Linked DNA regions of Homo sapiens. The protein of the gene in region 2 purifies or fractionates together with the protein of the main gene of each other region. This does not show direct contact. Each region holds a gene or a part of one and is shown on either strand. Other genes may lie near its edges. The genes, in order: FBXO42 and GJA10.

Evidence for each region.
Region 1: the proteins of GJA10 (region 2) and FBXO42 purify together in Homo sapiens (affinity purification with mass spectrometry; one large-scale study listed by BioGRID and IntAct). This does not show direct contact.

What each region holds. Positions count from the first base shown.
Region 1 is NC_000001.11:16,251,378-16,255,199, forward strand, and holds part of FBXO42 (F-box only protein 42), read right to left. Parts: intron 2,355-3,822; coding exon 2,258-2,354; intron 1,805-2,257; coding exon of another isoform or gene 1,776-1,804; coding exon 1,719-1,775; intron 1,028-1,718; coding exon 911-1,027; intron 409-910; coding exon 1-408. UniProt on the Homo sapiens protein: Substrate-recognition component of some SCF (SKP1-CUL1-F-box protein)-type E3 ubiquitin ligase complex. Specifically recognizes p53/TP53, promoting its ubiquitination and degradation.
Region 2 is NC_000006.12:89,893,028-89,896,630, reverse strand, and holds GJA10 (gap junction alpha-10 protein), read right to left. Parts: upstream 2,163-3,603; coding exon 531-2,162; 3' UTR 511-530; downstream 1-510. UniProt on the Homo sapiens protein: One gap junction consists of a cluster of closely packed pairs of transmembrane channels, the connexons, through which materials of low MW diffuse from one cell to a neighboring cell. Involved in tracer coupling between horizontal cells of the retina.

The DNA.
Region 1 (3,822 bases), on a different chromosome or scaffold from region 2:
CAAAGAAAGTCCTATTTTCAGGTCGTATCCTTCAGGAGCAGATGGAGTACTTGGAGATATGGCCTGTACAGGACTGTCCAAAGAAGAGCCACCCACAGCTGCCGTTCCTGGAGACAAACTCCCACCATTGAGGATAGGAGAGCCGTCTCCTCTGGCTGGGGAAAGGCTCCCTTCCCGGGAACCTGAAGGAGTCTGCCTTTGAGCCCTGGGTCTCAGTGTTCCCCAGCGGCCGTTAACACAAGGAGCTTCATCCATGCTTCTTACTGGAGACTGAGAGCGGTACTCTCGGGTTTCAGGAACGAGAGCTGGAGGAGTGGCACTGATAGGTGATGGGCGAGAGTTCAAACTGGGGCTGAGTGGGGCTCTCCCACTAGGAGCCTGGCTGAAGACCACCACACACTGTCCCACCTGGAAGACAAAGGACCAGTGCTCACACTCTTCTATGATTCTGATTGTTCATTCAACTGTCAAACATTTTATCATGAGCATCTGTCATGTGCCAGACATTTTGTAGGTACCTGAGATATGAAGATGAAAATGATGTAGTCTGCCCTCTAGGCTAGAAGTCAGACATGGGAACAATCGCTGCTTTGTGTGACATATGCTATCATTAGAGATATGTATACAGAAGGGGTGGGGAGAAGGGAACAATCAATTTTTGTTAGAAGGAGAAGGGAAAGTTTCACAGACAAACAGATGCTTAAAGTTGGGACTTACTGAATGAGTAGGGCCCCTGTAAGTTTTCCCATTTAGTGAGAAATGCCAAAGGAGCTATGGCTAATGTTCACCTCTTTTGTGACACCAAGGTGTTTTCTATTTTTGTACAAATTTCTTTGTAACCTGACAAAGTAATGTGGTTTTCCACAATTTAGGACCTGTCCTCCTGCTAGCCTGTCAGCTCCCTGCTTACCCGGCAAGCTGGATGGCACCACAGTTCTGGGGCCCCATGCTCTTCATTTTCTACCTTGAGTGGCTGCCAGGCCCAAGGACCAGAATGCATGTGCAACAACCAAGCATCCTTGAATAGCTGTAAGAGAAAAAACCAATAACAAGACTCAGGTGTGATATGCGTTCCAAAACACACACACACAGAGTTGCAGTCTCAAAGCTCTCCTGTCTGGTCTTGAAAGGATGTGGACTCTTCAGAAGGATAGCAAAATCCTCAGTTAATTATTCAGTTGTGCATGCATCCACTTACGCTTTCATTCATTCATATATTACCACTGGCTTAGCACATGGAATTGTGCTTGTGACCCATGAATCAACTGAGTGGTTTTGACACTTGCCCATAATTTTATGTGTATGTATTGGGGATTGAAGGAGAGGATAAATAATACATATCCACAACTTTCTGAATCTGCTTTCTTAAATACTGTGTGAACTCTGACAGTTATCAACCTGCTTTTTTGTTCCACTGCCCTCTCCCCTTTGAAAATATGATAGCAGTAAACTTTATAGCCTAAAAAGGAAATAGGAATGGGAAGAATATAGATATGAATATTCAAGAGACAAATATCTATGATTAAAAGGATCCCCCCACAACCCTAAAAAAAAGCAGAAACAAAGGCCAGAAAATACAAAGGCTATACCCAAAAAGCATTCCTTAAATTAAAATGCCATGGAAATAGTCTTGTATACTCCTAGAAAAGAAGACAGGGGAAACAGGTTTTGAACACTTAGTAGCATGCACATGGGAATGCCACAGAAGCAATACTCACAGCATTGGGACCGCCACACCCTCCGAGGATTAAGATAGTTGCATCATCTATGACAATCTGAGGAGGGGAAGACATTGAAAATAAACCTACAAAGACACAGGTTTCTGACTTTCTATGCTTCACTGGTATATGAGAATAGCCTACCTAGCTCCCAAATGGGAATATTCTAGTTACCATAACCTCTCCATTCTCCTAAAAACATATCAATTCTGATCCCTGTGAATAAATTACTGATAATTCACCTGAAAGGATACATTCTTTGTTGATCAAATATTAACATGAATGTCAACCACATAAAATGCAGGATTCTCTTGAGAAATGACACAGCAAAGTAAATGCTTTGGGGAGGAGCATAATATAAAACCACTATAAATAATATGACCCATTAGAAGTTGAAAAATAAATACCAGTAAAAAAGAATGATACATTTTCTTTGGCTTAGTGCATATTGGCATCTTACCTGACTCCCTCCTCCCTCTCCCGTCCTAACTGAAAGACGCTACAGTGTTTGCTGAATAGTTATTTTAATTCCTGAGCACCTGAGATTGGCCACCTCGAGGATGAGGACTGGGGCCAGAGATGTTCGGCTTGGACCACGCCCACTGCTCAAGGTCAAGGACCCAGACATCATTGCTCCTGTGAATTAAGGACAGAAGGATAAAGGTAGTTAGGAGCTCCCAGGGACCATAATGGTGGCTGGGGAGTTCCACATGCCTGTGGCCCATCTGGCAAACTTGCACCATTTTCACTTTCACAGACTGTGTGGGCTGGAGCAGGTTTTAGAGATGCCCTACTCAGAGTTCAGGGGCTTCTGAACCAGAAAGAGACCATGTTGCTGAATCCCAGCTCTGTAGCCTGAACAAGTCACTTAATTTTCTCTAACTCTGACTTTATCTCTAAAATGAAAATACTGTTACTACTGTCTGAGGAGCTGATATAAAATGAAGGGACCTTTATAAAGATGCGCAGCAAAGTGTTATGCTCCTACTTAGCACTTAGGCTGTATCTTTCTTCCCCTACTTTCCCTAGAAGTCATCCTGAGACCCTCCCTCTGCTCTTTCCACGAGGCCTCATCTGAGCCACGTCTGCGGCCAGACACTAGTGCCTAATGAGATTATTTTTTTAACCATCTATTAACTGAAGTAAAAGCAGATGATTAAAAAATAGTTAATTGGTGACAGCAGGAAATAGACACTGGTTAAGCTACAGTTTTCAAAAGCAAAAACCACAAAGAAGAGAAAAAACGATTCAAAAGGCAGCTTCATCATTGTCCAGGAGTTAAAAGCTTTATCGATTCTGGCTACAAAAAGTAATTGCACAATGACTAATGAAAGCTGCAGTTTTATCAAGGACAGACTGGCATCTCTAACCCTCAAGGGACCAACATGACGAGGACAGACTCCTGGATGGCAGTCTCTCTTTCATGGTCACTTAAGGTCATTGATTCACCCACAAAAATACAGGAATAATAGTTCCAATATCTGAAATCCTAAACTCTCTCATTGGGAGAGTAGCTCCTATAATCTCTCTCCATAACTGTTTTAAAATATGAAGATGGAAATGCCCTAAGGGAGGACAGGTGTGGGATGGTCTTGCTGCTGACAGCTCATCAACTTCCACTTCAGAGCACAGGGGGAATGACCACAACTGCTGCTACCGCTGAATCAGACAGTGATACAGATGGAATGCTCTGGCTCCTGACTATGGCTTGAGCTGTCCAGTATGGCCAGAAGTGGACAGGACAGGAGGTAGGGACAATGACCTCACAGAAATGTCATGCCTGACACAGTTTTCCTGTTCCTACCCATTCCACAACCCATCCCATTTGTTTTTTTCTTTTCTTTCCTTCTTTCTTTCTTTTCATGCCCTTTACATGTGGCTCAACCAACCTATCACATTTGGAGGGCCCACCATTTCCACTTGTCCTGTCAATCTCCCCCTCTTCTCCTCTAAAGCCCAAAAGGGCAAGAGCTGGGTAATAAAGTAGAATAAGTAAAAGCATTCTGTTCTCGAAAGTTGGCCTTCTGCAGGCACAGCACAGCAGGCAAGGTGGAGGTTCCATCAGAATTTGATCCTACTGAATAGAACCATATGTCAAAGAGAT
Region 2 (3,603 bases):
CACACTGTGACAGAAGGACTTTCTAAACTGCAACTCTGATCCAGTCCCTCCTCTGCTCCACATCCTCCGTCAGTTCTCTATGGCTTCCCTACAGGGCCTCCATGCCCACTTCTCCAGCCTTCCCTCCCTCTGCACCCTCCTACCACCCTGTGCTCCAGCCACACACAGCTCCTCAGACAGCACTGCTATGTCTCACTCTTAGGCTTTACCTGCACTGCTCCCTCTACCAGGACAGCTTCTTTCATGTGCCCCAGTCCTTCCGGTTTTGGAAAAACTTGCCACATCTTTCAAGATTCAGCTCAAGGTAACTTCAACTATGAACTTTTCCTGACCCATCCATATGATCACTCCCTCCTTTGCTCACTCATTCCCACTAACGTGACGCCTTACACTTGATATATTTACATTTTACCTGCCTAAATTTTACTCCTACATCCTGAGTCCTTTGATGTCAGAGACTGTATTTTACCCATTTACATGCCCAGCACTTATAAGAGCGATTGATATAATAAGATTTTTCTAAGTCTATTTTATGAATTGAATTTAACTGAATGTATCGAATGAATAATTTTATCTCTCCATAAATAATCTCCCCCTCCATCTGCCTCTCTGTCAACACAAACATACATACACACCCCAGGAAGAAAGAAAGGAAAAAGAAAGCATCCAGAATGGAACAGCTCTTGTGATAGTTCCATGATCGGTAGGGCTGCCTGTCTTACCATTGATGTTCTGTGCCCAGTGACTGAAGGCAGAGGTGAGGGGCTGTTTTCCCAGTGAGGAAAATCCAAGCAGGAGCTATTCCGAGAACCAGAGCTTCCTGAGTCACTGTGCAGATGTCGCTTTTCAGACAACAATCTGGACAGAAAGCTGGCCTTGCGACTGCCTGGGCGAGATCTGTCTATCCAGACCCCACTCTCTCTCATGCTGCCTTCACTGTCTCTGCAGTGACTATGAAGATCTGTGAGAGGCTCACCTGAGGGTTCTGGGTCCTGGGACTGCTCCCAGGTTCCTACTGCAAAGGATGGACAGTTTCTAGGAGCCGTAGTTGTACCTAGCCAGGACTGAGACATTGTATTCTGCAGGCCAAATGAGGAATGGTCTGATTGCTGTCCCAGGTGCTGATTTCCAGCACTGCCAGCCCAGGGACACGGGCTGTGAACATGGAGCTGTCCGCTATGCTGATCCTTCTCAGACCAGTCCTTTTTCCCATTGGAAGGGTCTACTTCAAGTTGCCTTGGCTGTGGGATTTGCCACATGGTTTTAGACTTTGGCACATTAACTCGAATGACTTGCTGTTGATTGTTAGCTTGAAGTGGAGAGATTCTTTCAGGCAATGAAGAGCAAATCATACACTGCTGGGCCACAGAATATTTCTTCAAATGGAATGGAGGGCCTGTTTCATCCTCAATGCCCTCACTGCTGGATTTCTTATAAAGTGTCCTCATAATTTTTCTGATGCCTAGATGAAATATTTCCAGTATATTGAGTAACAAGGAAATGGCTGCAATGCTGTGCATAAAAAGCATGAAAATTGTCTTCTCAGTGGGCCTGGATACAAAGCAATCCACCGCATTGGGGCAAGGAGGTTGAGTGCATTTGTAAAGGGGGTGCATTTGAAACCCATAGAGAATATATTGGCCTATCATGAATCCTACTTCCAGCACAGATCTGGTCAAGATGTGTAAGACATAAGTACGCAGCAGACATCCTTTCAGAGGGACTTTATGGATCCTCTTCTGCTCCTCTAACCTCCTCAGTTCCCTATCTATTCTTTGCTGCTCCTCCAAGTCAAGATCTGGATTCTCCATCTGGGCTCTAAGGTGTGACTTTTTCCTCTGCCTGTCTTTCTCAAAGGCCCTGAGCCTATAAAGTGCATGGCCCATATAGACCAAAGAAGGAGAAGACACAAAGATGATCTGTAAAACCCAGAACCTGATCAAAGAGATAGGGAATGCATCATCATAACAGATATTGTTGCAACCTGGCTGCCGGGTGTTGCAGGCAAATGCTGACTGTTCATCATCCCAGACATCCTCAGCAGCCACACGAAGTACCAGCATTCGGAAGATGAAGAGGATGGTCAGCCAGATTTTCCCCACTATGGTTGAGTGGGAGTGAACTTCCTCTAGGATGCCACCCAATAAGTTCCAGTCCCCCATGGTTAAAGACTAATGTCTGAAATATACAGAAAACACTGAGGTTAATAGCACCCATGGTGGTAATATATAGACACAAGCTCAAAAATACAGCAGGTTCTTTTGTATGTCAGCAAAATTATGAAGGATCTTCCAGCCCTAATATTTATAGCCCATGCTTAAAATAGGACATTTCCAAATATATTAATTTTTGAAAAAACACTAAATACCCCTCACAATTTCAGCAGTTTACTTCTTCCTATTCTCTTTTACTCTCCCCCACAAAGCTGCCTGTTATTCTAGTATACAAATAGGTCTCCATATTTGTACAATTCATTCTAATTGCACAATTGTATTCATTTTTCTATCCACATGAGATACGCTACTTACCATACATCTGACATGATCGTAAAGGAGTCTCAATTCCTCAGGAAGTGTTCCCTACCCATCCCAAGTTGTAGTTATTTTTCCCTTTCCTGAATCCTCACAACACTATTATTAATATTAATCACCTGGGACTGTGCCTAAATGAGTTTTGTGATGGTTGTGTTCCCCTTCCTGGAAAGGTACACCCCTTGCAGATAGAGACTCTTTCTAAAGCATGTTGGTCATCGCACACACAAGGCGTCAATATATAATAGTCAATGGAATTGTCTTTTCACTTTAAAATTCTGTTCCTTGACCCTATCACCAAAATAACCATCAATAGGCAAAATAAAGTAGATCCTCATGATATATTATCCAGGGCTTTCACTGCAAGACAAAGTATAGGTAAAGAAAATACAAATCAGTCAAACCCTCAGGAACTGGCTCATATCAGGGTAGCAGTAAAGATTAGGCAGACACAGAAACAATACCAGCAATAACACATAATTACATCCATTAAGCCACATCTGGAACATCATGTTTTCATGGAATTTTTGCTAACTTAGAAGAAAAGTGAATATAAACTGCTTCTCTAGCAAGCTTAGGATCTGGGAAACAATACAGGTATAGCTGACATGAACAGGTTACTTGGTTTATCCTGAAAAACTAATGTTTTTCAAGGTTCAATAAGGTTAAAATACTTAGTAGGTTAAAGCTTTCTAAGATATGGAAGACTTCCAGATAAGAAAGATACAGAGGAAAAATAGGAAAGTATTATTAAGTTAAAATAGATAATGAGGCTGGACGTGGTGGCTCATGCCTGTAATCCTAGCACTTTGGGAGGCTGAGGTGGGTGGATCACCTGAGGTCAGGAGGTCGAGATCAGCCTGGCCAACATGGTGAAATCCCGTCTCTACTAAAAATAGGAAAACTAGCCGGTGTGGTGGCACGCGCCTGTAATCCCAGCTACTCAGGAGGCTGAGGCAGGAGAATCACCTGAACCCAGGGGGCAGAGATTGCAGTGAGCTGAGATCACGCCACTTCACTCCAGCCTGGGCAAAAGAGTGAAACTCTGTTTCAAAAAAAAAAAGATAATGAA